Homo sapiens: one gene and its partners. The protein of the gene in region 1 purifies or fractionates together with the protein of each later gene. This does not show direct contact. Each region holds a gene or a part of one and is shown in the gene's direction. Other genes may lie near its edges. The genes, in order: CANT1, ITGA6, LRIG1 and TOR1AIP2.

Evidence for each region.
Region 2: the proteins of CANT1 (region 1) and ITGA6 purify together in Homo sapiens (affinity purification with mass spectrometry; 3 studies listed by BioGRID and IntAct, with this or other methods). This does not show direct contact.
Region 3: the proteins of CANT1 (region 1) and LRIG1 purify together in Homo sapiens (affinity purification with mass spectrometry; 3 studies listed by BioGRID and IntAct, with this or other methods). This does not show direct contact.
Region 4: the proteins of CANT1 (region 1) and TOR1AIP2 purify together in Homo sapiens (co-immunoprecipitation; 3 studies listed by BioGRID and IntAct, with this or other methods). This does not show direct contact.

Annotation. Positions count from the first base shown.
Region 1 is NC_000017.11:78,999,002-79,006,958, reverse strand, and holds part of CANT1 (soluble calcium-activated nucleotidase 1), read left to right. Parts: intron 1-7,957.
Region 2 is NC_000002.12:172,472,020-172,479,976, forward strand, and holds part of ITGA6 (integrin alpha-6 isoform b preproprotein), read left to right. Parts: intron 1-754; coding exon of another isoform or gene 755-871; intron 872-2,035; coding exon 2,036-2,246; intron 2,247-2,909; coding exon 2,910-3,103; intron 3,104-3,577; coding exon 3,578-3,666; intron 3,667-4,375; coding exon 4,376-4,494; intron 4,495-7,621; coding exon 7,622-7,720; intron 7,721-7,957. UniProt on the Homo sapiens protein: Integrin alpha-6/beta-1 (ITGA6:ITGB1) is a receptor for laminin on platelets. Integrin alpha-6/beta-1 (ITGA6:ITGB1) is present in oocytes and is involved in sperm-egg fusion.
Region 3 is NC_000003.12:66,378,568-66,386,524, reverse strand, and holds the end of LRIG1 (leucine-rich repeats and immunoglobulin-like domains protein 1 isoform 1 precursor), read left to right. Parts: intron 1-223; coding exon 224-544; intron 545-2,252; coding exon 2,253-2,534; intron 2,535-3,123; coding exon 3,124-3,543; intron 3,544-4,126; coding exon 4,127-4,252; intron 4,253-4,893; coding exon 4,894-5,046; intron 5,047-5,663; coding exon 5,664-5,948; intron 5,949-6,035; coding exon 6,036-6,262; 3' UTR 6,263-7,728; downstream 7,729-7,957. UniProt on the Homo sapiens protein: Acts as a feedback negative regulator of signaling by receptor tyrosine kinases, through a mechanism that involves enhancement of receptor ubiquitination and accelerated intracellular degradation.
Region 4 is NC_000001.11:179,867,598-179,875,554, reverse strand, and holds part of TOR1AIP2 (torsin-1A-interacting protein 2), read left to right. Parts: intron 1-6,714; exon of another isoform or gene 6,715-6,747; intron 6,748-7,957. UniProt on the Homo sapiens protein: Required for endoplasmic reticulum integrity. Regulates the distribution of TOR1A between the endoplasmic reticulum and the nuclear envelope as well as induces TOR1A, TOR1B and TOR3A ATPase activity.

The DNA of each region.
Region 1 (7,957 bases):
ACCCCCCAGAATGGCTCTGAGGGTGTTGCCGGGTTGAGTGAAAGTCCTGGCGATTCGGCCTTTGTGTCCCGGGAGCCGAGCCTGGAGGAAAGCGTGAGGAGAGAAGGTGGCAGTAAGCAGGTGGGCTCGTGCAGGTGCCACCGCGGTGTGGAAGGCAGCCCTGATCCAGGTCCATGGGGCGATGATCCCATCCCGTTATTTTCACACACTCTGGAAAAGGACACCTTCCCAGATGTGTGGTGCCATTTGGAATGTGCCTTTCAACTGAGAAGGTCGCCTTTTGGCTAAAATTCCTCCAGGTGTAACATCGATGATACAAATTAAGCAGACACAGCCTCTTTACAAGGCAGTAACTGCAAACCGTAGAGGGTTCTGAAGCTGTGCGCCCACACCATAGACAGTGACTGGTCCTGGCCCTTGGAAAAACCTGGAGGCTCTTTCCCCTCTTCCTCCTGTGATTGGTGGAGGAACAGCTCCCCGAGATGTCCACGTCCTACCTTCTGAGCCTGTGAATATGTTACATTACATGGCAAAGGGGAATTAAGGTTGCTGATCAGCCGGCCTTAAAGTAGTGAGATGATCCTGGATTTTCCCAGGGAGCCCAGTGTAATCACAGGGTCCTTAAGAACAGAAGAGGGAAGCAGAAGAGCCGGAGGGAGATGATGGCCAAGAGCCTTGGGGAAGTGCAGTGGGCGGGCTTTGGAGGGGGAGGAGGGGCCACCAGGCAGGGAATGTGGGTGCCTCCAGAAGCTGGAAGAGGCATGAGAATGGAGCCATGGCCCGTGTGAGGCTTCTGTCCCACAGGACGGTGCCTGCTGCCTGCCGTGTGCTGGATACTAGGGGCGGGGACAGGTGCAGAAGTCAGTCAGATCCTGAGCTTGACCTTTAAGGAGCGTGCTGTCTGTGGAGGCAGGATGGCCTAACCAGACTCCCTGTGACCTTCTTCCTTTCTGGTTTCCTTGTACTGCCCACCCCCGAGGAGATTTGCCGTGGAATTTGCAGGTACAATAGTTAGCCTTGCAAGTGCCAAAGCAGGAATCAGGTAACGTTTTCAAGGAGTCTGGCCCATAGCAGGCATTAATAAGTGTTTCTTTGAGATGCGCCACCCGTGTTCTCTCAGGCGCTGTTAGCATGAGTGTGTGAAGGCCTTGGCTTCTGCCTTGGCTGTGCTGAAGAGTCTGTAGGTCAGTGGGGTTTGCTCTTTACCATGGCAGTGAACACAGTGGGCACTCTGAGGCCTGCCTGCCTGCTCTCTGGGTGTGGGAAGGGAAAGGAAGGTAGCTCTTCTCCAGAGATAAGGGGTTGGCGCACCTGCCACCTGCCTACCCGTCCCTTCCAAGGAGGTGGGGGCTAGGATGTGGCGGCCTCTTAACAGGATGATGTGGCTTCCTGCCCTGCCTGGATCCTGAAAGGGAGGAGCCTGGCAGCCCTCAGTAAACCTGCTGGTTCTGCCACCTGTCCTATTCCACTCCTGCAGGAAGCTGGAGAAACAAACCCTCTTGGCTGTCTGCTGTCCAGGGAGTCGCCACTCCCTTCATTATAGCCTTGCTCAGAGTGCAGCGGCAGGCCTGGGGATGGCCTCGGGAGGTAGGTGGCCCCTGAGCCCTTCTCCTGGGAAAGGGCAGCAGCAGGGAGACGCCTCCTGGGTGTGCACAGAGAAAAGCACAGTTTCCCTAACTCCCCGCTCCCTAACTCCTCGCTCTTTAACTCTCACCTCCCTAACTCCCCCCTCCCTAACTCCCTTCTCCCTAACTCCCCTCTCCCTAACTCCCTTCCCTAACTCCCCTCTCCTTAACTCCTCTCCCTAACTCCCCCCTCCCTAAATCCCCTCTCCCTAACTCCCTTCTCCCTAACCCCCCTCTCCCTAACTCCCCTCCCTAACTCCCCCTTCCCTAACCCCCCTCTCCCTAGCTCCCCTCTCCCTAACTCCCTTCTCCCTAACTCCCCTCCCTAACTCCCCTCTCCCTAACCCCCCTCTCCCTAACTCCCATCTCCCTAACTCCCCCCTCCCTAACTCCTTGCTCCATAACTCCCCCCCAGCTCCCCTCTCCCTAACTCCCCTCCCTAACTCCCCTCTCCTTAACTCCTCTCCCTAACTCCCCCCTCCCTAAATCCCCTCTCCCTAACTCCCCTCCCTAACTCCCCTCCCTAACTCCCCCTTCCCTAACCCCCCTCTCCCTAGCTCCCCTCTCCCTAACTCCCTTCTCCCTAACTCCCCTCCCTAACTCCCCTCTCCCTAACCCCCCTCTCCCTAACTCCCATCTCCCTAACTCCCCCCTCCCTAACTCCTTGCTCCATAACTCCCCCCCAGCTCCCCTCTCCCTAACTCCCCTCTCCCTAACTCCCCTCCCTAACTCCCCTCTCCTTAACTCCTCTCCCTAACTCCCCCCTCCCTAACTCCCCTCTCCCTAACTCCCCTCCCTAACTCCCTTCTCCCTAACCCCCCTCTCCCTAACTCCCCCCTCCCTAACTCCCCTCTCCCTAACTCCCCTCCCTAACTCCCCTCTCCTTAACTCCTCTCCCTAACTCCCCCCTCCCTAACTCCCCTCTCCCTAACTCCCCTCCCTAACTCCCTTCTCCCTAACCCCCCTCTCCCTAACCCCCCTCTCCCTAACTCCCCTCCCTAACCTCCCTCTCCCTAACTCCCCTCTCCCTAACTCCCCTCCCTAACTCCCCCCTCCCTAACTCCTCTCCCTAACTGTCCTCTCCCTAGCTCCCCTCTCCCTAACTCTCCTCTCCCTAACTCCCCTCCCTAACCTCCCTCTCCCTAACTCCCCTCTCCCTAACCCCCCTCTCCCTAACACCCCTCCCTAACTCCCCCCCAACTCCTCTCCCTAACTCCCCTCTCCCTAACTCCCCTCCCTAACTCCCCTCCCTAACTCCCCTCTCCCTAACTCCCCCTCCCTAACTCCCCACTCACTAACTCCCCTCTCCCTAACTCCCCTCTTCCTAACTCCCCTCCCCAATTCCCCCCTCCCTAACTCCCCCCCAACTCCCTACTCCCTAACTCCCCGCTCCCTAACTCCCAGCTCCCTCACTGGTGGCTCCCCTGCGCTCTGGGAGTGTCCTGTGGGATGGACAGATGCCTCCGTGGTGCCTTGCAAGCCTTGCAGGTGGTTATTCCTCCTGTGAGTGCTCCTGTGAGTGCTCTCCAGGCAGCAGCAGGGGTCCTGTCCCTGTAGGCCCCTGAGTCTGGGAGATAGCTGGTTTGCAGCCCCACTGAACAGGAGAGCCTGGCTGGCCACAGAACCCATGACTTTGCTGTAGTCCCTGAGTCCTCTTGTTGCTGATTATCTAAAATCAAACCATTACTCTGCAGGCACTGGGTTTGTCAATCTTTTCACAATAAAGCGAGCATTTAAACTGCTTAAGCTTTGAGGGGTGTAGGGAGAAGCCTCACACGAGCCCCTTCTGGAAAGGACTTTGTCCATCTTGTGTCTTACCCTCGCCGGTTCATTTCTGTTGTTTCTGGCTGGCAACAAACAAAAGAGCCCCCCCACCCCCCACCCCCGAAAAAGAACCCAGCTTTTTAAAGAACATGCAAACTCTTGCCTGCAGCAGGCGCCGGCAGCCAGGCACCCCGGCAGCCAGTGGTAGCTCATACACCAGCATGGGCTGTGGCAAAGGCATCTGATTTGAAATTTTTTTGCAAAATAAAATAATTCCTTGGGGTCCTGAAGGAGAGATGAAGCCCAAGGGAAGGTGTTCTGGTGCTGAAGTTAAAGGAATTTTCTGGAAGGTACACAGAGTTCTCTTGTCACTAGAAGCAGTCCCTTGTTTAACCAAAGGTGGCTGAGGCCCTGGCGTCTCTGCCCCTCTGTTAGCTCTGGGGAATCAGCGTGACCTCGAGGTAACACTGACCACACGGGACTGTTCAAAGTCTGTCTCCCCAACTGTGCTGAGCTCCTGGAGGAAAGGCCCCTGCCTCCGTCACACTGATTCCCCAGAGGGGCAGAGACGCCGGGACTCAGACACCTCTGGTTCCATGTGGTCAGAGGACATGAGCCTCCCGGGTGGGGAGCGTGTGCCACGGTGTAGATGCCAGGAGTCTGGAATAGGAAGGCGTGCAGTGTTGCACAGCGACCTGGGAGAGGTCCTGCTCCTGGGAGTGCAGGGGGAAAAACCCACTGAGGCTTTCTCTGCAGGCTGAGACGTTTGTCCTTCAGATGGAAGGCATTGGGATCTACTAGACTTGGAATCCAGACTTGCTTTTTGGAAAAATTATTCTGTCAGTTTTGTGGAGGGTGATTTGAGATGGTCTTGACCAGGGATCTGTCGAGGGACAGGGAGTCAGTATTTTCAGCCTCCACAGTCTGTTGCGACCACTCAACGGTGCAGCCAGACTCAGCATGCCAGGGAGGAGTCCTAGCTGGCTTTAATCAGCCACATCTACACACCAGGACGTGACTACACAGCAGGCCGCGTCTACGCAGGCCGCGTCTACACACCAGGCAGAGTCTACACACCAAGCTGCAACCACATACCAGGCCACACAGGCCGCATCTACACACTAGGCGGGAGACTGCATTTGGCCCACGGGTGGTAGTTTGCAACCCTCCCAGCAGGCGAGAGGGTACTTGTAGAGTGAGTGAGAAGCAGTAGCAGTCAGCCCCTGTGCACAGTTCTCTAACCCCATCAGCATGGCTCCGGGAAGTAAACTGAGGCCAAGGGAAGTCCCTTGGCTGAGCCCAGATGGTCTATATCAGGGGTGTCCAATCTTTTGGCTTCCCTGGGCCACATTGGAAGAAGAATTGTCTTGGGCCACACATAAAATCCATTGATAGCTGATGAGCTTAACAAAAAATCTCATCTCATCATGTTTTAAGAAAGTTTACGAATTTGTGTTGGACCACATGTTGGACAAGCTTGGTCTAGATCATTAGACCAAGACTCTGAGAGTCATCAGGGTGAGATGGAACTGGAGCCGAGGCTGTGTGGATGGGGAGAAGGGAAGCGAGTCTCAAGCTGGGTGGGACACGTGGGGCTGGGGAGGGAGGAGGGTTAGGACGAATTGCTTCCTGGGATGGCTCCTGAGGGCCGGCACTGCCAGGACAGGGAGTTCCTGAGGAGGACCTGGTTTGCGGTGCCTGTGGGTATCGGATGAGGAGGCTCAGAGACTAGGTCAGGCTAGAAAGGCGTGGGGGTCTTCACCTTAGAGGGCAGGCCCTGGGAGAGGTCAGTGGGCTGCCAGCAGTGGGGGCCGAGAAGACCTGCCTGGGAGGAGGCCCACAGAGAGTGCCCCCCTGCCTCGAGGAGGGACACTGACAATGTGCTCACTGGGTTTGCCACTGGTGAAGGCTTCAGGTGGCTGCTTCTGAGGATTAGCCAGAGGGAAGGAGAGGGTGTAGGTGTGGGTGCTCTTGTACCATGGTGGGCGAGGGGGCCTGGGCGGGGGTGGGAAGGGACAGAGGTGCCGGGGACTCAGGGAAGGGTTTTCCTTCATTAACAGATTCGCCATTTATTCAGCAGCAGTTGAGTGTCTGTGGGAGTGTGGGGTCTGGAGGTAAAATGGTGACAAGGTGGGCGACTTGGGGCAGCCTGTGGATGGAAGGGAGGAACCAGAAGAGCAGGTGCCCGGCGGCTGGGGGGACTGACCTGAGTGGCAGGTGTGAGCCCCACCCAGGGGCCTCGGCTGCTGAAGTTGGCCACAGAGTGGTCTCCTGGGAGAAGTGGGCCGGAGATTTGACAGGAATGGTGAAGGTGAGGACAGTGGCTCTCCGGAGTGCTGAGGGAGTTGAACAGGGAAGAACATGGGGGTTCCAGGGGCTGGTGACGACGACACCTCACGATGTCTGACAGCAGTCTATGCAGGCACCGTTGTTCTGTGCTGGCAAGCACCGTCTTCCCGGGCCTGCAGCTCAGATGTGGCAGCTGAGCAGCTCGATCTTTGGGGTGCTTGATCCAGGTTGTGGGTTCATAATATGCCTAAGGTGGGGCCCCCGGTAGAGTGCAGAGGGGCTGTTGAAGAAGTGGCTAATGGCTCACCTGGCATCTCTTTCCCTTCAGCCAATGCGTGCAGACTGTCTGCTCCCTGCCTGGCAGTGCGTCAGGTGCTGGGGCTGTGACAGTGGCCAGATCCCTGCCCCAGGAGCAGAAATAATCACCTAGCCAGGCAGGGACGGTGGGAGAGCCGGAGCGGCATGGGAGGGAGGGCGAGTGGGCAAGTCTTCCCAGGGAGCTGATGCCCCGTAGGAGAGACCGAGCTGCTGGTGCGAAGAGCAGGCCCGACTGTTCCAGGCAGGGGGAACTGCAGGCTCTGCCAGGGCCAGTGTGGTCAGGGGACAGAAGGAGGTCTATGTAGCCAGCCGGCAGGCAGAGGAGATGGTACAGTGTGAGGGCTGAGCGGGAGCAGAGTGGGTTCACCCCAGGACCTGAGGAAGCCGCTGAAGCTGGGAGTGTGCCATCTGATGGATGCTACTTCATGGCAGGTGGCGAGGGAGTGTCAGGGGATGTTGGTGGGGGGCAGCTGGCAGGGCAACTTCATGGCGGGGGGTATGGGAGTGTCAGGGGCGGAGAGGCAGGAGGGGTGGAGGGAGGCAGCCGGCATGGCATGGTGAGGAAGGGCCATGGAAGAGGACAGAACCTGTCCACGGAGTCAATGCTGAGGAAGGAAGACGGAGGATGAGGCCAGTCAGGTTTTTCGTGGTGGCAGTGCCTTATGTTTTTATCGAAGTGTATATTCACACAGAAAAGCACATCTCCCAGGATCCTGAGAGAGCTTGAACCAGACCACTGTGGACACGGTGGCCACCCGTCACCACTACCCTTCCCAAGGGGAGACGAGGAGCAAGTAGGCTTGAGGGAAAAGCTGCACAGGACTCGTGTCTTGAAATGTCTAAGACGCATGTCAGAAATGCAGGTAAGGGGGGGTGCGGGTGCTCGCACCTGTGATCCCAGCACTTTGGGAGGCTGAGGCAGGAGGATCACTTGAGCCCAGGAGTTCAAGACTGGCCTGGACAATATAACGAGGCCTCATCTCTATAAAAAAAATTAAAAATTAGCTGTGCCCCAGGTGTGTTGGCTCACACCTGTAATCCTGGCACTTTGGGAGGCCAAGGCAGGTGGATCACCTGAGGTCAGGAGTTCAAGACCAGCCTGACCAACATGGAGAAACTGCATCTCTACTAAAAATACAAAATTAGACGGGCGTGGTGGTGCATGCCTGTAATCCCAGCTACTAGGGAATCTGAGGCAGGAGAATCACTTGAACCCAGGAGGCGGAGGTTGCAGTGAGCCGAGATCGTGCCATTGCACTCCAGCCTAGGCAATAAGAGGAAAACTCTGTCTCCAAAAAAAAAAAAAAAAAAAAAAAAAAATTCGCTGTGCGTGGTGGCACACGCCTGTAGTCCCAGCTACTTGGGAGGCTGAGGTGGGAGGATCGCTTGAGCCTCAGAGGTTGAGGCTGCAGTGAGCGTGATCACTGTTGCCTGGGCAACAGAGCGAGGCCCTATCTCAGAAAAACAAAAAAAGAAATGTAGGCGGGATTGGCATAGCAGGTAAGATAGAGTAATTCGAGCTCAGTGGAGACTTCTTGGGCCTGGCTGGGGTTTTGAGGCCTTGGGACTAGAAAAGGGGCAGGGCCTGGATGCAGTCAGAGGAGGATGTCCAGCACGGGGAACCCCAGCCCTGCTGCCGGGAAGGCCCCGGTGATCAGCCCTGTGACCACCTCAGGGGGTCCTGAGAGGCCTGCCCCTTAAAGGGAGCATGGAGTCTTCCCTGCGGGCCTGGAGGAACTGCTGGCAGCCCCCCTGTGCTGTTAGGAGGATCACTCTGAGCAGCAGGTTCCACGTATGTGCCTTGTTCACTCCTTGAACCTCACCCTGGGGCTAAAACCTAGGACTGTCCGAAAGTTCCATGTGGAATTGTCACCCTGTTTTTGTATCTTCTCAGCCCAGCAGGCTGCGGCGTGGAGAAGGGGGTGTCTCTGGTGGGGGTGTCTGTTGCTGGCTGCCGTGCA
Region 2 (7,957 bases), on another chromosome or scaffold:
ACGCACTAATAAGTTGTTCAGGCCGGGCCTGGTGGCTCACGCCTATAATCCCAACACTTCGGGAGGCTGAGGCAGGCGGATTACTTGAGGCCAGGAGTTCAAGACCAGCCTGGCCAATGCAGCAAAACCCCTTCTCTACTAAAAATACAAAAATATTAGCCAGGCGTGGTGGTACACATCTGTAGTCCCAGCTACTCAGGAGCCTGAGGTAGGAGAATCATTTGAGCCTGGGAGGTTGAGGTTGCAGTAAGCTGTGATTGCAGCACTGCCCTCCAGTCTGGGCAACAGAGCAGGACCTTACCTCAGAATGTTTCATTTAGGGATTACTTATGATTAAAATACTTGATTGTAATTGCACTGGCCAAGAAACCAATACTTTGGTCTTTAAGATGGATGGCTGTGGATTTTATAAATTTACTTGCTGTCAGAACATTTGAAAATATGAAGCATTTTTTCTCAAACACATTTGCCACTTTTAGAATGGATTTCCTCAAAAGTGAATGCCTGAGAAAGAAATCAAATTCATATTGTTACATTCGGTTTGTCTGTACTGTGTGGAATCTGTCACTTCAAAAGATCAGAGGGTTTGGGGGAACAAAACGATCTGCTTGAGGTTTTGGAAGCTGGCAATGAGAGCAGCTTGCCGGATGCAGTGGTGGCCTCCTCATCCAGCGAGAACAGCAGTGGCTGTCCTGCCTCTTACCAAGCATAATTACTTTTTCTTCAATTTCTTCCGTCCCGTGCATGCGTACAGGCCTGCTGTTTTTGACCAGCGTTTCCTATACAGATCCTGATCAGTTTGTTTATAAAACACGGCCTCCCCGGGAGCAGCCTGACACATTCCCTGATGTGATGATGAATAGCTACCTAGGTTTGTGACCTCTGCGACGACAAATAAATTGTCTTGGTTGTGGTCATTAAATTTTTTTTTTTGATCCATACAGAGCATAAATCTTTTTATGCCCTATTTTGTTTCCATTGAAGCACACACAAAAAGCATGCCATGGCTGGGGCTCTGTGGCCAGATGGTTGTAAGAGCTGGACTCCATATTGCCCTCTAATCTGGTGGCTCATGTTTTTCAATTCACTTCACAATTTGAGAACTGCAACGGTAGTGGTGAAGCTTTTCATAAGTAAAACCCAATAAAGGGGGTGAGCTTATATTATTCTGCATCTGCCTCACCTTTCTATAGAAACATTTACTTAATTTGAATGGTTTTGATATGGGCACTTCTATTTGCTTTTCACCAGATCTGTTATTTGTAATCTGACATCCTACCTGATGCTTTATAATGGGTGTGTCCTAATGTTTTCTGCCCTCTGAACAAGTATATAACTGATACCAATGACAACTTCCTCACCTCTGTTGTTTATACTAGGTTCTCAAATACCATGTATCATCAGTCATTGTTTTGTCTGCATGTTTGTGTCTGAGAACTAAGTTGGTCCAAAACAATGAAATGCTATCTATGGTGTATTAATGATGTTAGCATTTGTTTTTGTCTGATTACCAAAGAGTTGATGCCTCTTACCAAGCTTAATTACTTTTTCTTCAATTTTATTTTATTCCTGTAAAAATACTGGTCATTAAATTACAGCAGAACCCTGTAACATGCACTCAATTATGCTTCCAGTCAGGTTATATATTCTCTGTGTATATGATGTAACATAACCAAATTATTCCTGGACAATTCAGTATCTAGCTTGATCTCCTTTTACCATAGTTCCAATATTAAAATAGGGTGGAAATTGATTCTTAAGATGTATGAATACTTCAAAATTCAAGTTATACATAGGTGCTTTTAGTTAAAAGTCTTAATATCCATAGAAAGCAGTAAATTAGCTAGCCCCAGGACTTTGTCCTTGTGTCACATCTGAACTCTGTCACTCATATTACGAATGTGATAGCTGGTGGGAGGGTCAAGAGGAGAGAGGGGTGGGAAGCCAGAGGAAGAGGTAATGATGGAGTTACCAATGTCATAGGCCTAAAATATATGGATTGATGTGAGGGGCTCTATATATTTTGTTTTTCTAGGTTTTTCTTTGGACTCAGGGAAAGGTATTGTTTCTAAAGATGAGATCACTTTTGTATCTGGTGCTCCCAGAGCCAATCACAGTGGAGCCGTGGTTTTGCTGAAGAGAGACATGAAGTCTGCACATCTCCTCCCTGAGCACATATTCGATGGAGAAGGTCTGGCCTCTTCATTTGGCTATGATGTGGCGGTGGTGGACCTCAACAAGGATGGGTGAGAAAGCCTCAGGTTATATTATGCTGCAAATCATTTCTGCTTTGACTAGCTTCTATACGACTGGAGAAGAGCCGTCCTTTCAGGTTCATTGACGTAAAGAATATTTTTATTGCCGCATTTTTACCAGCCTATCTTTATCATTTCTATGATGGCAGCAGACAGACATTCATATCCCTCCCCAGCGTATAGGATTATATTTTTGATTTTCAGTTTTTACTTATATGTTGGGATCATGAGTCTATGAGAATTAAAATTTGAAAAAAATTGACTCAGAAAACACTTGCATGATTCTGTTCTGTGGTTTCATATGGGGCTGATGGAGCATCAGCTCCCGTTGAAAACAGGAATTGGTGATAAAGTAAAAAACAGATATGTGGCTGTTGGTGCCAGTTGGGGGGGTTAGAACAGTGAGGTCTTAATGGGAGTCCTGCTGTACTATGGTTCTAACTCGAGAAATTGGCTTTGAGTTCTTACCCTTAGTATTTTTCTTGGGGCGTTTATTATAGGCTACCTTGGTTTTTAAAAAATGTTATAATTGAGTCATAAATTCTGGAGTTGAGGGCCTTTCTATTATATGTCTTTGTATCCTTAGTACCTAGACTGGTGTTGCTGGTATGTTAGCTGTTGGTTCACGGCTCTTTCCCCTCATTATGTTTTTAGGTGGCAAGATATAGTTATTGGAGCCCCACAGTATTTTGATAGAGATGGAGAAGTTGGAGGTGCAGTGTATGTCTACATGAACCAGCAAGGCAGATGGAATAATGTGAAGCCAATTCGTCTTAATGGAACCAAAGATTCTATGTTTGGCATTGCAGTAAAAAATATTGGAGATATTAATCAAGATGGCTACCCAGGTAGATAATAGATTATGAAATGGCTATGATTTATAGATTATTTGATTGTTTAAATAATAGCGCTGCTGGGCACAGTGGCTCACGCCTGTAATCCCAGCACTTTGGGAGGCTGAGGTGGGCGGATCACCTGAGGTCGGGAGTTCGAGACCAGCCTGACCAACATGGAGAAACTAAAAATACAAATTAACTGGGTGTGGTGGCACATGCCTGTAATACCAGCTACTCCCAGCTTTGGAAAGCTGAGGCAGGAGAATTGCTTGAACCCGGGAGGCAGTGGTTGCGGTGAGCCAAGATTGCGCCATTGCACTCCAGCCTGGGCAACAGGAGCGAAACTCCATCTCAAAAAAAACAAAAAAAAACCCCGAAAAAGCCAAACAAATAAATAATAGTGCTTGTGTCATCTTACTTTAAAACATTTTACTAGAGTGTTTCTAAAGCGTTTGTTAAAATGTTAAAATGTGATGTTGTCAACAGATATTGCAGTTGGAGCTCCGTATGATGACTTGGGAAAGGTTTTTATCTATCATGGATCTGCAAATGGAATAAATACCAAACCAACACAGGTAACCAAATAACCGGGATTTCTACAGCTAGAGTCTCAACTTTTTGCCCTATAATAAAATATTTAGGTTTAAGTGACTTTTCACACAAATCTTATTTTATTTACAAGTCCACAATAGTATAAATTTTTTAAAAATGTATTACTAGAAGATACCTTCAAAATAAATATATAAATGTAATGACTTGCTTGTTCTAATTGTAAAATTTCTTAGATAAGTTAGGAATCAAGGTAATCCAAAGCAAATGAATGTTATTCTACCCTGACGGCATTAAGATAAGAGGAAATACGATATATTCTCTTTAGTAGCATACTAAATAGAGATGAAATTGGTCAAACAAAATAAATGACTGTAACTACATGGAGAATGTAGACACCAAAAATTAAAAATGTCTTTTGAGAAAAATAAGACTTGTAGGGAAGGTAGGGAGATTTGGTTTGAAATGGCCTGATTGACTTAATACAATAAACAAGCTCATCAGAAATGGGCTCTTTTCTGCTTTGAGATACTATGTAAATCGGATGACTTTTATGAAATGAAATGTATGAAGTGTTAGATCATATAGAAATTTATGACTTGTATATAATATAATTTACTTATAAGTGAACTCTCAAATTTCAGTTCAAAAGAAACTTGTGTGTCTTTTTCAAAGCATTGTTAAGAAGCTCATGGTGATAACCTAATGTCCATTCGGATGCCCTGTGTATTTCAGGTTCTCAAGGGTATATCACCTTATTTTGGATATTCAATTGCTGGAAACATGGACCTTGATCGAAATTCCTACCCTGATGTTGCTGTTGGTTCCCTCTCAGATTCAGTAACTATTTTCAGGTCTGTTATCTATGATTTTAGTGTTAAGCATGTTCTATAATCAGGTTATACTAAAATGTTGACCTTTTGGACTGAAATTTGTCATACCTATACTTCAAAGGTTTATATGAATTGTGAAGCTATTTCTTTTTCTTTTGAAGTTAGTAAACAATGTAATAACAACCTATTTTCTAAAATCTTTTAAAGTATCTGAGGAAAACATAGATCCAAGTTAGAATTTTTACTTCATATATTTTTAAAACCTTAATTTTGATGATGAAAAAAACAAAACACATATAAAATGTGACAGTACAAAGAACATACAGAAGGAAACCCCCTATAATTCACCATGCATTATTAAACTCCAAGATCTTGATTTCTATTTTATTTTCTGTGATTGGACCATGTATATTTAACAAAATTAAGACCATAATTGTGCATAATTTTGTAACCTGCTTTTGTCTCTTTAGGATACATAGTAGACTTTTCCTATGTCACTGAGTACTTTTCCAAAATGAAGTTAACAACTGTCTGTGAGGCATCTTCTGACAGGTTCAGAGCTTATTTAACCAACTGCCTTGCTCTCACTGGATGGTTACGTTGCTTCGCAATTTTTTTTTTTGCTCCCATGATATAAAAAGCTGTGGAAAACATTCTTACTTTTGTTTATATCCTTGATTATTTCCTTATTATAAATTCCTGGATGTGAAATTGATATATGTGCTTCAAGACTTTTGATTCGGTTTCGCCAAGATGACCTCCCAAAATGGTGCGACATTTCCCATCCGTGGTGTTTGAGTCTCCCTTTAACCAGCGCTTTCATCACTGCTGGAAATCACCATTAAAAATTGGAGGCTTTTTTTGGTTTGTTTTTTAATTTTCAAAAAGTAGCAGATTTATTTTTTTTAAAGTTAATAATATAGAATTATAGAAAATCCAGTACATTATTCCCATCTTCCACAAAACTTGTGTGCATTTCTCTACTTTTAGGGTATCATCAAAAGGCTACACTGTAACTTCTGCTGTCTAATCTGGTTTTTATTTAATCTTGGGCTATCTCTCCTTGTCAATACAATAGATGACTTAACTTTAGTCAGTTAAATGTTTGCCCCTGTCTATGTGTAACTGATATTTTAATATCCTTACTTTCCTGTCCTCATAAGTAGGTTGACTGTCAACCCTGTACACTTGTTCCCTCTTTACTTGCAGATAGTGTGAAAGTAGAATTCAACAACCCTTTGATAAGAAGAGGAGTAACTTCCCCTTATTTTACAAATGAGGAAACTGAGGCCCAGGACTTGGCTTGAGCTTTTAAGGCTGGAGCCTGAGAGGACAGAATGTAGCACCTAAATCTTCCTGACTTGAATCCTGTGCATTTTTTCTACTAAATTGTACTAGCACTTCAGGGTAGTTAGTAAATAAACACCAATTTTAAACATGAGGCAGCCAAACTAATAAGACTTATTTTCTATGTTAAAAGACACAGTTTTCATAATTCATGTATATTTTGCCCTCAAAATTGTGTGTTGTATGTTTAAAAAACAAAATATGTTCTAGGCAGAAATGTCTGTTAAAATTCTACAGTATGTAAAATACTATATCTGTGGCAACTGTGCCTTTTAAATATGCTCTCAAAACTTAAGAATGTATCTAGTTAGTATCTTAGAACCTAGCAGCTGTCTAAATGTAAAATAAAAATAGAATGGTAAACAATAAAGGAAAATGGAAAAACAGGGAATGTGGGCAGTATTTGACCCTTTATTGGACCCTACCTTCACTGTGAATGGACTTGTGCTCTAGCCTACCAACAGATTGATTCCAGAAGTTCGAGCTAGCTGTTTGGGATTTGGAATGCATTTTCTTGTAGAAACACTGTTCTCCAGAATGGCTGGGTTTACCACAAGCCCATCAGAGTCAGCCTAACTGAATCCACGTGGTAATGAAACCCCAGGCCCCATTCTGAGTTCTGGTGGGGAGCAATGGAGGTGGGCCTCCTCACCCACTCATACCCCTCAACCCACCGCATACCTGCATTTCTTGTGCCTGTGGCAGCAGTTGGGCCACAGACCCGTGGAGACCCCTGTGGCTGCTGGGAGCAGGGCAGCCAAAACATACGAAAAGATGTTTTCAGATGGTGAACCAGAGTAGGGCGTGGAATTGGATTCCAGCTTCTCAAGTGTTTGCGGGGTTGCAGTAGGCAGCGCAGAGATGGGAAGAAGTTTAAAAGTTTAAGTTTTTGCTTGCAGAGATATCGTGGGGGTAGAAAAGTTGTCAATCCTGGCAATAGGAAGGCAAAGACTGAAGGTTGTGGGTGGGAGACTCCGAGGGAGGCTGAAGAGAAGGGCAAGTGTTTGTACAATGGAGACTCCCAAGTTCAGGATTGCCTGTATTAATTCACATACTGTAGACACGCTGATCATGAGCATCTCAGGTATTAGGTGTTTGTTGGTGTAATTCTTCCAGAGGGTATGTTGGCAAGACTACTCGTAATTAAAAATGCACATATTCTTTGACTCCAAAATTCTGCTGCTGGGAATTTATCCCACAGATAAACTCAAGTGTGTGCACAGATGATGTTTGTGAAAGCAGAAAGCTCAACAACGTGAATGTCTACCGATTAGGTACTGGTTAAATAAAGGATGTTACACTGATACAGTGTAACGCCATCAGGTGTGAAAAACAGTGAACTAGATCTATGTGTATATACAGGACAAGACCTCTGAAATGGATGAGAAAAAGCCACATACAGAACAATGGCAATTAAGTTCCCATTTAGTTGAAATTATACATATATTTTAATATTTAATTTTAGATAATTTTAACTGACGTGTCTGGAAGAACATACAAGGCTACTTGGGTGTTCGGGTGGGAATGGAGACAAAATATTTACTTTAACCCCCACATGTTGCACATGTACTCATAAGTGTGTACGTTTTTAAACAAATATTGTATAATGAGGCTCTGCATTGTATACATTTATATCTATTAACAGTTATTTTCTTCAGCAATGGGGGAAAACGTCACGTGTATTTTTTTTCCTGTGTTTTTAAGCTGTGCTGGGCAGCTAAGGATGCTCTCTAGTATGTGAATTAGACTCACATTCAAGGTAACAGAGGCTGAGCTTGTTTTTCACTCCTTTTGTCTTCAGATCCCGGCCTGTGATTAATATTCAGAAAACCATCACAGTAACTCCTAACAGAATTGACCTCCGCCAGAAAACAGCGTGTGGGGCGCCTAGTGGGATATGGTGAGCATCCCTCTGTCTTGGTGGGATCCCCCTCAGTTTCCCACCTCCACTTCATGATGACTCTATTGTCCTGAGGAGCCACAGGGAAGATGACAGGAGTGCTGGGCAAAGGGAAGAGGGTCTGTCAAGTGTTTTTATAACATGTTGATCATCAATGGGCATTGGGGGGATTGGAGAGCTAGGGAACATGTTGGGTTTTTTCCACTGCAATAATGGATCTTTTAAGAAATATGTGTT
Region 3 (7,957 bases), on another chromosome or scaffold:
GTGATCATAAAGGTGATCAGTACTCACAGACTTCTAATTAGATGAGGTCAGATGTCCATGGTGCAACTCTTACGGCATCTGGTTGGTGGGGCTGAGGATGCACAGGGACCTCAAGCTCTGGTTCCTGCTTGGTGTCTGTGTCAGTTTCTGTTAGCATGAACAGCAGCTGGTTCCTCTGTGTACCAAGAACCCAGCGCTTTACAGTTGACCCTTCTCTCCCCAGATGACTTCCTGAAGCCACAGATCATCACCCAGCCAGAAACCACCATGGCTATGGTGGGCAAGGACATCCGGTTTACATGCTCAGCAGCCAGCAGCAGCAGCTCCCCCATGACCTTTGCCTGGAAGAAAGACAATGAAGTCCTGACCAATGCAGACATGGAGAACTTTGTCCACGTCCACGCGCAGGACGGGGAAGTGATGGAGTACACCACCATCCTGCACCTCCGTCAGGTCACTTTCGGGCACGAGGGCCGCTACCAATGTGTCATCACCAACCACTTTGGCTCCACCTATTCACATAAGGCCAGGCTCACCGTGAATGGTATGGAAACACCATCTTTGTTATAGTACCAGAATCCTACAAAGCACACTCCTGATTGCCCTTTCAGCTTTCCATGTAGAGATGACTGAGACAGGACACACACATGCTTCTGTGGGGCACTGTTAAATCCTATTGTTGCCTGGGTTTGCCCCAGAGCAAGTTTTGCAGATTTCAAGGGTTATTCACAATGAGTTACTTGTTTTTGGTGAGTTTTAAAAATCTAGTTATTGGCCGGGTGCTGTGGCTCATGCCTGTAATCCCAGCAGTTGGGAGACTGAGGTGGGCAGATCACTTGAAGCCAGGAGTTCGAGACTAGTGTGGCCAACATAGTGAAACCCCGTCTCTACTAAAAATACAAAAATTAGCCAGGTGTGGTGGCACATGCCTGTAATCCCAGCTACTTGGGAGGCTGAGGCACAAGAATTGCTTGAACCCAGGAGGTGGACGTTGCAGTGAGCCGAGATCACTCCACTGCATTCCAGCCTGGGTGTCAAAGTGAGACTGTCTCAAAAACAAAACAAAAACTAGTTATTAAGTCAAATTGTGGAGAGCTAAGCCTTGTTTTGTCCAGTTCTTATCCTCTATAAGCCAAGAGATCTGGCTTCCAAATTCCAAATACCCCTTAGCCTGGGGAAGCTGCTGTTCTTTGAGTAGATGGCACAGCATTGGAGTCAGAGGCTAGCTACTGCTCCAGAGACTGTGGAGTGCAAGGCTGGTGTGAGCCCTGGCCTGAAAGACACAGTGTCCTGGCAGTTGACAGGTTTTTACTCATTAACCAGCCTTGGAGCTTGTCAAGGGGACCATGTGTTATTGTGTGTTTGGAGGAGGGGGGTGGGGAGTAGATAGCTTGAAGAGTTTACTGTCCCACCCCAGTAACCTAATGGGGTTATCCTGATTACTAACTCTCTAGTTAAAAAGAATTGGCTTGAGAATCATCAGAATGGTGGATCTGCTTTGCTCTTTAAGCCCCCACAGATCACAGCGAAACACCTTCTTTACCACACTGTAGTGGGGTTGTCTTGGCTTATTCCAAGTCCTCACAGCTTCCGAAAGACTCAGCTGTTTGTTAGACTCTCCCCAAAATTGACGTTGACAGGAACTCTGGTGGTGCCTGACACGTGGCTGGATGCGTCCCACTCTGTCAGGACATCGATCTTTAGGCTGAGCAAGCTAGCAAGCTGAATGCTTCCTGCCTGGGTATACGGCAGTGGGCAGGAACAGCCTGGGTGAACAACCATCCAAATGGATGAGCCATCCCATTCATCCCATGAACACCCATCCAAACGGATGAGCCATCCCATTGCTCTCCCAAGGTGGAGGCATGCCCACCTTCCCTCTGTAATTCCATCTCCACAGCCTCTCTCTTGGTGGGTAAAGCAGGCAAGCATCAGGCCTACCTAGTGTGGATGGGCACCCCCTGCAACTCCCGTATAGGCACTGCCATGTAGAGTAAAAGCCTTTGCTTTGAAGGGACTATAGCCAGCCTAGGGTGTACAATGCAAGGCTGATGGGATGGAAGTGTTCCAACTGTGGTGGGAGAAGCTGGGGGTTCCTGATTCACAGGTGGCAGGAGTGGTCCTGGGCAGACATTGGGAGAAAAGAAGTGAACTGGCACTGGGCACAGTGACAGGTAGGTGTTTGCCAGAGGACTTCCTGGTTTTGCATCTAGCTGTCCCGTAACCCGACCCTGTATACGTATGTTTTCCAGTGTTGCCATCATTCACCAAAACGCCCCACGACATAACCATCCGGACCACCACCATGGCCCGCCTCGAATGTGCTGCCACAGGTCACCCAAACCCTCAGATTGCCTGGCAGAAGGATGGAGGCACGGATTTCCCCGCTGCCCGTGAGCGACGCATGCATGTCATGCCGGATGACGACGTGTTTTTCATCACTGATGTGAAAATAGATGACGCAGGGGTTTACAGCTGTACTGCTCAGAACTCAGCCGGTTCTATTTCAGCTAATGCCACCCTGACTGTCCTAGGTTTGCCTATTGCTCTACTGTGTGTGTGTGTGTGTGTGTGTGAGCGAGAGAGAGAGACTCTCAAATGCTCTGTGTGGCCAGGGGTGGTATGCGTTGTGGGCCTTTCGACCCTGTTTGAAATTTGGGGCTGCTTTTTGAGTTGAGTTAATTTTTCTTAAACAAGTGTTTCTATCTCTTTAAAAGAAATGATAGCTGGTGAATTAAGAGTCTTCATAGGGTTTAGCTACAGAACATTTTAAGAATTGGACAGGATGGATGTGGGCTTGGTCAAGAGCTACAGAACATTTTAAGAATTGGACAGGATGGATGTGGGCTTGGTCAAGAATAAGGACACAGGCCTGACACAGGACAGTTAGGGAATAGCAGGGGCTTTTGTCAGCAGAGGTTCACTGTCCCTGTGGAAGCCACTCCCAGCATGGAGATGACTCAGTCAATGAGTTGAAGGGTCTTCTCCAAAGCTTGCCACTCTGAGACAGAATCTCAGATGCATCTCATTGATATGTTGGATTGTCCGTTGTCCAGAAGACCGGGCAGAGCCAGAGCAACGGAGGCCCTGAGAATGACTAAGATCTCTGTTGCTCTCTTGTAGAGACCCCATCCTTGGTGGTCCCCTTGGAAGACCGTGTGGTATCTGTGGGAGAAACAGTGGCCCTCCAATGCAAAGCCACGGGGAACCCTCCGCCCCGCATCACCTGGTTCAAGGGGGACCGCCCGCTGAGCCTCACTGAGCGGCACCACTTGACCCCTGACAACCAGCTCCTGGTGGTTCAGAACGTGGTGGCAGAGGATGCGGGCCGATATACCTGTGAGATGTCCAACACCCTGGGCACGGAGCGAGCTCACAGCCAGCTGAGCGTCCTGCCCGCAGCAGGCTGCAGGAAGGATGGGACCACGGTAGGCATCTTCACCATTGCTGTCGTGAGCAGCATCGTCCTGACGTCACTGGTCTGGGTGTGCATCATCTACCAGACCAGGAAGAAGAGTGAAGAGTACAGTGTCACCAACACAGGTCAGGCCCTGCCAGCGGAGCTGACTTTCAAGGAGGGAGGAATGGCAGTGATGCTGGGGAACTGGGCCGGGTTCCAGTGGCTTTTGAAAGAATTGCACTGTGTTCAGAACTCCTGAGGGTTTAGTCCCACTAATTCCATTTTAACTTTGAGGAACTTAACCTTAAACAGGAATACTCTCAAATTTAACCTTAAACAGGAATACTCACAAATACAAGTAACTGACGCACCATGCAGTTTTCCCTCTCCTTGCTAACTCAGAGGCCGCCTATGCACAGGCCCTGCTGCCACGTAGTAGGTTGTTCCTGAAACAGTGCGGTACTTCTGTGAGCCCCGGCTTTCCATCACTGGTCTCCACTTCTTGTGGCGTCTGGCATCTGCTGGCTGCGCTCTTCACGCTGGGTGTAGAGTAAAGCTGAGCAGGCTCTGGGAGGGCCTGTTGCGTACATGGACTCCATGTCATCTCTCTGCACAGCGCTGATGGTCGTCACTGGGAGGATCCCCTTTCTGAGCTTGACAGTGAACGTGTGTCTGCATTTCTTGTCACTGAGACCCTGGTGTTCTATTTGTTCTGTCTCCTTGCAGATGAAACCGTCGTGCCACCAGATGTTCCAAGCTACCTCTCTTCTCAGGGGACCCTTTCTGACCGACAAGAAACCGTGGTCAGGACCGAGGGTGGCCCTCAGGCCAATGGGCACATTGAGAGCAATGGTAAGGCCTCAGTAACTGTGAAGCAGAGCTCTGCTGTGACTGTGTCTCTGGGTGCTGGAGGTGGCCTCCAGGTCTTTACAGGGCAGGTACCTGGCATTAGATGGGGCAAACTTGGTGAAGTAGAAGGCGGTATGACTAAGGGCTGCTATTTTGGACCCAGTCTTCATGAGTTCTGCAAGGTTTTAAAGTCCTGTCCCCTCAGGAAGCCACTGGATTGGGCTTAGCATCTCCCTGGCAGGATAAAGTAGGCTTGCCTGGAGTAGCAGCTGGAAAGGGCATTACGGTGCATGAACCCAGCCAACCCATTCCTTACATGGGGAACGTGCCCAGGTCTGCTCTGTGATCCAGTCTTACACTGGAAAGCTGTCACCAGGATGAGGTACTTCCAACGGTGGGGGCCTCTGAGCACTTGCCTGAGACTGTAGAGGCTCACCCTGAGACAGCTGCTCATTTCACAAGGCCAGCCTGCCTGCTGGGAAGTAGTAGCAGAAAACACGCTGCTTGCCAGACCAGCAGCCCCACCGCTCTGAAGAACTTTTTAAAAAAAATGACTGTTCTAGCGGCCTTGCTCATTCCTTTCATAAGGCTTACTGTGAAATACCAAGCCCAGAGTTTCTAATCGTGTTGGAATCCACTTGCAGGTGTGTGTCCAAGAGATGCAAGCCACTTTCCAGAGCCCGACACTCACAGCGTTGCCTGCAGGCAGCCAAAGCTCTGTGCTGGGTCTGCGTATCACAAAGAGCCGTGGAAAGCGATGGAGAAAGCTGAAGGGACACCTGGGCCACATAAGATGGGTATGAGATGCTTCCCATTGGAAGTAGTTTCTTTCTGAAATGGAAATTTGGGCTGACCTAGTCACTACATCAAAGGGGGAGACACATTCCTAGTCCACAGCTGTCTCCAAATTTGGTATTCAGTATATACAGGGGAAGCTCAGGCCTGGCTCTCTTAATTCCAGGATAGTTTCTCCTAAATAAATCTACGCCATGGTAAGCCTGAGCATGAATTTTCTAGATGTATAAGCAACTTAAATAAGGGGCAAGGCACAAACGAAGTATAGAGTTTCAGTCAGCACTTTTTCACCAGGGCTATTTTGAGGCTTATTTCTAATTGTTGAAAAGACCCAACACTGCATGGTACCTAAGGCTAATGGCTTTTCCCCCGTGAAGCAGTAAGACTACATTGTCTATGAAATTCACTGTAAACACGAAAGACCCCACAGTTCATGAGTGACTTGGTGTTTGCCCAGTCCTTTCTCTGGGGACATAGTTGGGGAAAAGAGGAAGCATGCATACAGTGTTTGCAGTCAGGGTTCTCACCTTGCACAGTGGAGCTGAGCAGCCTGTCCTCTGTGTGGGGACGAAGACTCCCACAGCAGTGACTCTAACCCATCTTTGGCGCTGTCCTTCAGAACACGGTGGCCGGGTCGTATGCAGTGACTGCAACACCGAAGTGGACTGTTACTCCAGGGGACAAGCCTTCCACCCCCAGCCTGTGTCCAGAGACAGCGCACAGCCAAGTGCGCCAAATGGCCCGGAGCCGGGTGGGAGTGACCAAGAGCATTCTCCACATCACCAGTGCAGCAGGACTGCCGCTGGGTCCTGCCCCGAGTGCCAAGGGTCGCTCTACCCCAGTAACCACGATAGAATGCTGACGGCTGTGAAGAAAAAGCCAATGGCATCTCTAGATGGGAAAGGTAACTTTTGACTGTCTTCTAACAGGTGGGTTGGGAGCTGCTTAAACGGTCAAGTGGGGGTCTGACAGGTTCGTTCTTTCCTTGTAGGGGATTCTTCCTGGACTTTAGCAAGGTTGTATCACCCGGACTCCACAGAGCTACAGCCTGCATCTTCATTAACTTCAGGCAGTCCAGAGCGCGCGGAAGCCCAGTACTTGCTTGTTTCCAATGGCCACCTCCCCAAAGCATGTGACGCCAGTCCCGAGTCCACGCCACTGACAGGACAGCTCCCCGGGAAACAGAGGGTGCCACTGCTGTTGGCACCAAAAAGCTAGGTTTTGTCTACCTCAGTTCTTGTCATACCAATCTCTACGGGAAAGAGAGGTAGGAGAGGCTGCGAGGAAGCTTGGGTTCAAGCGTCACTCATCTGTACATAGTTGTAACTCCCATGTGGAGTATCAGTCGCTCACAGGACTTGGATCTGAAGCACAGTAAACGCAAGAGGGGATTTGTGTACAAAAGGCAAAAAAAGTATTTGATATCATTGTACATAAGAGTTTTCAGAGATTTCATATATATCTTTTACAGAGGCTATTTTAATCTTTAGTGCATGGTTAACAGAAAAAAATTATACAATTTTGACAATATTATTTTTCGTATCAGGTTGCTGTTTAATTTTGGAGGGGGTGGGGAAATAGTTCTGGTGCCTTAACGCATGGCTGGAATTTATAGAGGCTACAACCACATTTGTTCACAGGAGTTTTTGGTGCGGGGTGGGAAGGATGGAAGGCCTTGGATTTATATTGCACTTCATAGACCCCTAGGCTGCTGTGCGGTGGGACTCCACATGCGCCGGAAGGAGCTTCAGGTGAGCACTGCTCATGTGTGGATGCCCCTGCAACAGGCTTCCCTGTCTGTAGAGCCAGGGGTGCAAGTGCCATCCACACTTGCAGTGAATGGCTTTTCCTTTTAGGTTTAAGTCCTGTCTGTCTGTAAGGCGTAGAATCTGTCCGTCTGTAAGGCGTAGAATGAGGGTTGTTAATCCATCACAAGCAAAAGGTCAGAACAGTTAAACACTGCCTTTCCTCCTCCTCTTATTTTATGATAAAAGCAAATGTGGCCTTCTCAGTATCATTCGATTGCTATTTGAGACTTTTAAATTAAGGTAAAGGCTGCTGGTGTTGGTACCTGTGGATTTTTCTATACTGATGTTTTCGTTTTGCCAATATAATGAGTATTACATTGGCCTTGGGGGACAGAAAGGAGGAAGTTCTGACTTTTCAGGGCTACCTTATTTCTACTAAGGACCCAGAGCAGGCCTGTCCATGCCATTCCTTCGCACAGATGAAACTGAGCTGGGACTGGAAAGGACAGCCCTTGACCTGGGTTCTGGGTATAATTTGCACTTTTGAGACTGGTAGCTAACCATCTTATGAGTGCCAATGTGTCATTTAGTAAAACTTAAATAGAAACAAGGTCCTTCAAATGTTCCTTTGGCCAAAAGCTGAAGGGAGTTACTGAGAAAATAGTTAACAATTACTGTCAGGTGTCATCACTGTTCAAAAGGTAAGCACATTTAGAATTTTGTTCTTGACAGTTAACTGACTAATCTTACTTCCACAAAATATGTGAATTTGCTGCTTCTGAGAGGCAATGTGAAAGAGGGAGTATTACTTTTATGTACAAAGTTATTTATTTATAGAAATTTTGGTACAGTGTACATTGAAAACCATGTAAAATATTGAAGTGTCTAACAAATGGCATTGAAGTGTCTTTAATAAAGGTTCATTTATAAATGTCAGTATAGTTGGTGGTCCTTCTTTTACAAACGCAGTCATTCTGCCTTTAATTATCTTCCCCCAAAAAAGAAAAAAAAAATAGGCGAAGCAAAATCACATACTGTTTGTTTGCTCCAGGGCAGACAACACTGCTAGATTCCTGACATTTTGTTTTGAATTTTTCTACACCTGGAGCTTGTTAGTCAAGGTCTAAAATCCCTAAGTGTGGTGACCTTTCCATTTCATCCTGCC
Region 4 (7,957 bases), on another chromosome or scaffold:
AATGACATTTTTGGAAAAAGTCAAATTTTGAAACATTGGTGTCTTCTGGGGTTTTAATTATATAAATGAAGCTGTCTGGTTTTGCCTTTAATAGTTCAAATAATAATTATTTACGGTTTTTGAGGACTTCTTTTGTGCCCCTGTGGTTGCCAGTATTGCACATTATCTCATTTGATCTTCACACTGCCTCTTTCATCTAAGTACTATTATTCCATTTTGTAATTAAGAAAACCAAGGAAAAAATTAGCCAGGGGCTGGGTGCAGTGGCTCACGCCTATAGTCCCAGCACTTTGGGAGGCCAAGGTGGGTGGATCACTTGAGGTCAGGAGTTTGAGACCAACCTGGCCAACATGGTGAAACCCTGTCCCTACTAAAAATACAAAGAAATTAGCTGGGCGTGGTGGCGGGCACCTGTAATCCCAGCTTCTCGGGAGGCTTGAGGCAGGAGAATCATTTGAACCTGGGAGGCGGAGGTTACAGTGAGCTGAGTACGCGCCATTGCACTCCAGCCTGGGCGACAGAGCGAGACTCCATCTCAAAAACAAAACAAAAAACAAAGAAAACCAAGGGCATAGAGAGAGAGAGAGAAACACCAAGTCAGAAGCTGGAGCAGTCATTCAGGTCTAGGCAGTCTGACCTTAGAGGATAGTGCTATATTGGGTTCTATATTTGTAGATTTGCTTTATGGATGTTAGGTCATATTTGTAGATTGGACTTGATCCTGGAGGCTGACTTATAACTTTCTTTGTATAAAAGTAACAGTATTTACAGTTTTTTGTTTGTTTCTTTTTTGAGATAGGATCTCTCTCTCTTATCCAGGCTGGAGTGCAGTGGCACAATCACGGCTCACTGCATCCTTGACCTCCCAGTCTCAAGTGATCCTCCTACCTCAGCCTTCCAAGTAGCTGAGACTACAGGCACACACCACCATACCTGACTAATTTTTGTATTTTTTGTATGAACAAGGTCTCGATATGTTGCCTAGGCTGGTCTCTGAACCGTTGGGCTCAAGCAGTCCTCTCCTGCCTGAACCTCCTAAAAGGCTGGGATTATAGGCATGAGCCACCATACCTGACTACAGTATATTTTGAAGTACTGTATAAAGGTACTTTATAACTATTTTTTCTTTTCTTTTTCTTTTGAGACAAGGACTTGCTGTGTTGCCCAGGCTGGAGTATAGTGGCACTATCATGGCTTACTGCAAACTTGAACTCCTGAGCTCAAGCGATCCTCCCACCTCAGTCTCCCAAATAACTGAGACTGCAGGCACACACTGCCACACCCAGCTACTTTATAGTGAACACCAGAGTCATCTGGCAAATCTGTTAAAACATAAATTCCTGTAGGAGGCTCTCAGAGATTCTGGTCTAGTGGGTCTAGGTTGGGGCCTGAATTTGTACTTTTAGCAAGCTCCCAGGTAATGCTAGTGATTCCCAGCTAGTGAGTTTAATATAGTAAGGAAACAAACACTTGTTGTCCATATTGTTGACTTGATAGTTATACCCCAGTAGCACTGAGCATTCAGATCTTGGTTTTTAAAGGAACTAGGACTTTTTAGAGAAGTGGCTGATTTAGTGCGGGAGCAGAGAAAATACAAGATGAGCCTGAAAAATCTTATGGTGCTTGAAAGTAAGGAAATGCTACAAAAAGTTAGGGACCTTGTCGAAAGGACCCAAGAGCCAACTTGAAGGAGTTCCTGGTATCCAGGTTGGAACAATTTGAGCAATAAAATGAATAATGATAGTATTGGACTTTAACCCATAAAATAAAATGAGTTCATACTGATATTGCTGAGTGAATAAATAAGTAGGGGAGAAGGGACAACTCTAACAGAAGAATTCCATTTAATAAACATAGAAGGAAAGAAGGAAATACAAAACCACCATTAGGGAAACAGTACCATAGTAGTTGTTGCAGACAAAATCCAGTTAGAGGAAAATCAGAATATTTACATAGTCTCAAAGTATCTCTCCCAGGATAATTATTAACTACAAAGAAAAAATAGTAATCCGACAGTGGAGGTACTATGTTAACAAAGTGATCAAGGTTAACATCACCAGTAATGAGACAAGGACATCATGAACCCAAAGAGGCAGTGAGAAGGACACAGCGGCATTTCTGTGACGTTTGTTATTCTTGCCAAAAATGCATAATCTTTTTATCTTTCTAATCATGATAAAATATTGTAAAACTCTAAACTGAGGAACATTCTACAAAATAACTGGCCAGGTCAGGTGCAGAGGCTCATGTCTGTAATCCCAGCATTTTGGGAAGCCAAGGCAAGAGGATCGCTTGAGCCCAGGAGTTCGAGACCAGCCTAGGCAACATAGCAAGACCACGTGTCTATTTTTAAAAACAAAAAACACCGAACCCAAAATAACTGACCAGTATTCTTCAAAAGTGTCAAGGTCACAAAGACAAGAAAGGGTCACAAATGACAGGTAAAGACTGAGGAACTGTCATAGACTAGACACTAAGGAAAAATAACAACTAAAAGAAATCGTGAAATCTGAATATGGCCTCTAGTTAATTGAATTGTGCCAATGTTGATTTCTTGTTTTCGATAACTATGCTTTAATTATGTAAGATGCTAGATGAAGGATATAATGGAACTGTGTGCTATTTTTGCAACTTTTCTGTAAGTCTAAAATTAGTTCAAAATAAAAAGTTTAATAAAAATATGTTGACTTGAAGTAGATACTAAAAGTGATTAGGGAAGTTGAACTAAACCTGGCAGTCAGTTGTGCCACCCACTGTCAGAAATCTTAGCAAACTCTTAGATCCTTCGTGCATAGCTTAATACCTCTACGTGGTCAACCGAAACTAGAGATACAAGTCAAAGGAGTTGGGAGGGAGTATGAAAAAGGGTAAGTAGGAAAGGAAGGCTTTCTGCACTCAGAAAATATCTGTAGAATTTGATCTGCGCCAGGCATTCAATTCCTGTGTAAAAAACAATTCCCTAAGGAAGTAGAGTGCTTTTTGTTCCGAGGCTAGTACTTTTTCAAACTTCTTTCAAAAATCTAGAATAAGTCACCAGTTAGTGAAAATACAGAGAAACGAAAAATTGTGAAAATAATAATGCTGGGATATTATGACAGTGGATATGGTACAGAGGAGTGGGCAAGACTTAGAAATTTAGTTTTAGACAGACAATAAATAGCTAGCACAAGTTATAGAAATACCTAAGCTTGGCACCAGATCTGACTGTTGAAAGTTGTGTATTAGCCTTAAAGGTTTGGCTGCTGGTGTTTTGAAGTGAAATTGTAGACAGAATTTGGACCATGGGCTTTTGGAGCATTAGAGCAACATAGATAGAAATGTACCAGTAGGTTTCCAAACCAGTTGTTCTCCTTTATGGCCATGCCCCTCAAAAAGTATGGTAGCAATGCATACACACCTGTTTCGTTTGTCAGTTCCTGGGGCAAGAGAGAGGAGAACATTCTGCAGCTATTTTCTAACCTTGGGTAATATTTTTTATTTGGCTTCTCTGTTCTAAAGAGGGAACAGTGTGTGTACTAAATAGTACTGAAGATTGTCATCCATATGCCTTCTCTCAGTGATCTCAAGATTGCCAAATTAAAAGTAGTTTCTCACAAAACAAGTTGACTTTTTTCCAGGAGCATTTTATTTTCAACAAAAAATTATTTTAGATTATATGAATTCAAAAAGAAGAATGATTCCTTTTTTCATACTCCTTAATCTCTCATTATCTAAGGTAGTTGTGAAATAGGAAACTCTTAAGATTTCACTTTGTGTATGAAACTTATTGGAGAAACCATCTCATACAAAAAAAGTTATGATTATTGATTAGCCTTGACTGTAGTACCCCCTAGAAGAAAATATTTAAAATGGGAATTCAAGAGAGTTTAAAGCATTTATACTTTTTCTATGTGCCTATCTTGATTTTATGTATCATATGAGGAATTGGTTGAGGCTGAAGTCTAAGGGATAAATTGCCTGGAAAAGTCATTCCAATCCAGACTCAGTCTGAAACTTAATTATTATGCTACCACAAAAAAGAATAAGGGAATTTTTATCTATTGAAGGCAGATTTGAACTTACTAACATACATTCAGGAAATAGCAAAGAACAAGATAGACTATTTAGAGAAGTTAATTAAAAAGTTGCCATGGTTAGTTGATGTAAATTTCAGTGGATTAAATAGAACTACATTTTCTATTTTGGTGTGAAAGTACTATTTTCTTTTCTAAATTTTCTTTTAATAAAGTTTCAGGAAGGATCTTAAATTTATTTTAGTTTACATACACAAAACCCCTGATTTGTATTTTCTTTTGTATAGCATTTGTGCAGTAGAGAAGCTCCTCAAATTTTGTTTTTTTGCTCACTGTTTTTAGTGAAGGAGGTTTGAAAATACAAGCATCCCAGCTTTTGCTGTGGGCCTCCCTAAATTTCCTGTGATCTCTACAGGGGATCTTTTTATATCCCTCTAAGAGCCCTTAGCCTACAGGGGATCTTTTTATATCCCTCTAAGAGCCCTTAGCCTTCACCTAAATCACTGGTTCCAGTCTGGATTCCCTAGACATCTAGAAGTCCTGAATGATTTTCTTTCTGTATCCATAGTACTTGGCATTGGGCCTAGCACATGGTGCGCTCCTCAAATAAGTGAAACAATTATGTTTAACAATCATAAAGTAATGGTAGTTCTCAAGGTATTTTTATTTAGCATTTCTAAAAACCTAATGATAGTCATATACTTACCTTAAATCAGCTGCTTAGGACTTAAGCTAATGAAGTTGAGAAAGGAAGCCAGTTTTAGGATATCCAGATCTTTCCAACTCTGTGTTATAGGGATATAAAGTATTTTGTCTAATTTAAAATAATGGAAGTTTTTAAACCAAGGCTAGTAGCATTAGTTTTTTGTTTTATTAGAACTTCTGTTTGGCAGATCTACATATCCGATTACTAAAAATGAGAAAACGAAATTATTACAAGACTGCAGATTGTTTGGACATCTTTCCAAAATGGAGGAGGAGGGGTGGGATTGGAAAAAAGTTACCTTTGATAGCAAAATGGTTAGGAACCATAGTGCCTAATGGTCCTGAATCATTTCAGATTCCTCTAGGAGTTTAAAAGGATGTACCATCTTTTTGGAAAAAAATGCACATGTGTATGTAAAAAAAATTTTTTTTTTTTTGGAAATGGAGTCTCACTCTGTCCCCCAGGCTGGAGTGCAGTGGCGCGATCTTGGCTCACTGCAAGCTCCGCCTCCTGGGTTCACGCCATTCTCCTGCCTCAGCCTCCTGAGTAGCTGGGACTACAGGCGCCCGCCACCACGGCTGGCTAATTTTTTTGTATTTTTAGTAGAGACAGGGTTTCACCATGTGTTAGCCAGGATGGTCTCCATCTCCTGACCTCGTGATCCACCCGCCTTGGCCTCCCAAAGTGCTGGGATTACAGGCGTAAACCACCGTGCCCAGCCGTAAAGATTTTTACATGTAATTTCAGAGGATTCAGGACTCCTGGAAGTTTATCCTGTATTTTTTGGTGTGGAAGTGAAAAATTATGAGGGGTGATTTCTCCCACCGCCAATATTTATTCATAGTGGAAGAGTATCCTTTGGCTTTGTGAGCAGATTAAATGAGTTAATACGAATAAAGTGTTTAGAACAGAAAATAGCACTCCATAAGTGTTAGCTACTAAGTGTTATTATCTGACAGAGGGTTACTGTATACTGTTTAATATCCTGCCAAATAAAGTTTTCTGAGTTGTATATTGCTTGGAGGAACTGTGCCTTTTTCTAATTTGTACAAAGGCGTCATGTGAAATAGCAACTTCCCTACACAGAAATTCATGCCTTCAGAGAGTATGCTAAGATAAACCCTCTTTTGTACAACCATTAGGTAGGCTTCTTTTACCTTATTTCTATGAAGAGATGGTTGCTTAAAATTTTGTGAGGAAAACAAAGATCCATATCCTTCTATATTGCTCTTCTTTATCCCAATGTAAGTTACCTGCTTTGCCTCTGAGCAGATTAACTGCTACTGGTCTTGTCCACAGTGTGAAAGTTTGGTTTTGCTTATTAACCTCTTTCTCTTTTAAACATTATAAAATATTGAATAGAGATGCTGTAAGCTATTAGGATTTATGATACAGTGGGTATTCTTGTACCTTCACCCAGTTAAAGAAAACAAAATTACAATTATCTTTGAAATTCTTTGAATGCCCTCCATCCCCCACCCTTCCCTCTCCCATCAGAGGTAATAATTATCCTCAGGTTTGGACTTAATACTTCTTTTTTTTTTTTTAAAGCTTTATTGCAGCCGGGCACGGTGGCTTACGCCTGTAATCCCAGCACTTTGGGAGGCTGAGGCGGGCGGATCACCTGAGGTTCGGAGTTCGAGACCAGCCTGACCAACATGGAGAAACCCCGTTTCTACTAAAAATACACAGTTGGGCTGGGGTGGTGGCTCATGCCTATAATACCAGCACTTTGGGAGGCTGAGGCGGGCAGATCACCTGAGGTTGGGAGTTCAAGACCAACCTGACCAACATGGAGAAACCCCGTCTCTCCTAAAAATACAAAAGTAGCCGGGCATGGTGGTGCATACCTGTAATCCCAGCTACTCGGGAGGTTGAAGCAAGAGAATCACTTGAACTCAGGAGGCGGAGGTTGCAGTGAGCCAAGATTGCACCATTGCCCTCCAGCCTGAGCAACAAGAGTGAAACTCCGTCTCAAAAAAATATCCCTAAACAACACATTAATTTTATATCCTTTTGAAACTTTATGTAAGTGGAAAGTTTATATAAGAATGTGTGCATGTGTTTATTTTTTTCCTTGTGCTACTTGCATTTTTTTTTTAAGCTCAACATTCTTGAGTTTCATCTGTGTTTAGAATGACAGTATCCTATTGTACAGCAATACCTTAATTTATTCATTCTCCCGTTCGTGGCCATTGTGGCTGTTATTTTGCTATTACACAGTGCTACCATGAATATTTTTATTCATGTTTTTAAATGTACAGGTGCAGTTTCTCTAGGGTATGTGCCTAAGAGTGCAACTGCTGAGTTATAGGAAATGCACATCTTCAGTTTTACTAGGTAATGCCAATTCCAAAAGTGATTGTACAGATTTATAGTCTTGTCATTAGACTATAAGAATTCAAGTTACATTTTATTTTTGTCATTTATTCATTCCAGAAATATTTATTGGACACTATAGCAGTAAATAGAAAGGTAAAATGTCCTGCTTTCAGGGAGTTTATATTTTAGTGGAGAAAAATAGCCAAAATAAATAATATAGCAAAATGGTACCTGTTTTATGTGAAAAAAATAAAGCAAGCCTAGTAGTACTTGTTATTGCATTGCTGATAGAGCCATATGGGGGGATTTGAGGCTAAGGGGATGGGATATAACCAAGAAGTCCTGTGTTTCAGGTGGTGATTGACATGAACAGAGATATAGGTATGAGATTGGTCCTGATGCTTTCAAGCAGATAATTGAAGCTGTATTGAAGCTGTGAGTGTTGGGGTGGGGATAGGGGTTAGGAATCTTGCCAGGAGCATTTTCCCAGGCCCCTCTCTTCACTCCTACTCATCCAGTAGCTCTAAGGCTAAAGAATGAGTGAGGAAGCTGGTAATGGGTGGTATTATTTTGAGCATTTGGAGTTCTGGGGCCCCCTGGTGGCTCTTGCCTACAGAGGTTTAAAGGACCAGGAGAGGAGGGAAGACTTGTCTGAAACATATGGAACGGTGGAGTTCTCTTGATGCAGGAATACTTGGAATTCTAGTGCTTGTTTGATTCTTGAAGTTGTAAAACTGAAGGTTGGGGAATGGATGGAATTATTCTGAGCACTTGGAGCTTTAGGGCTTTCTCTTGACTCCTACCAATAGAGTCCTCTGGGAGGAGTGGTTTTTGCTATAGTATGTGGAACCCCCTTTGTCAGTTTTTGTAGTGTGGTAGATGTGAAATAGTATCTTGCTGACACTACAATAGTATC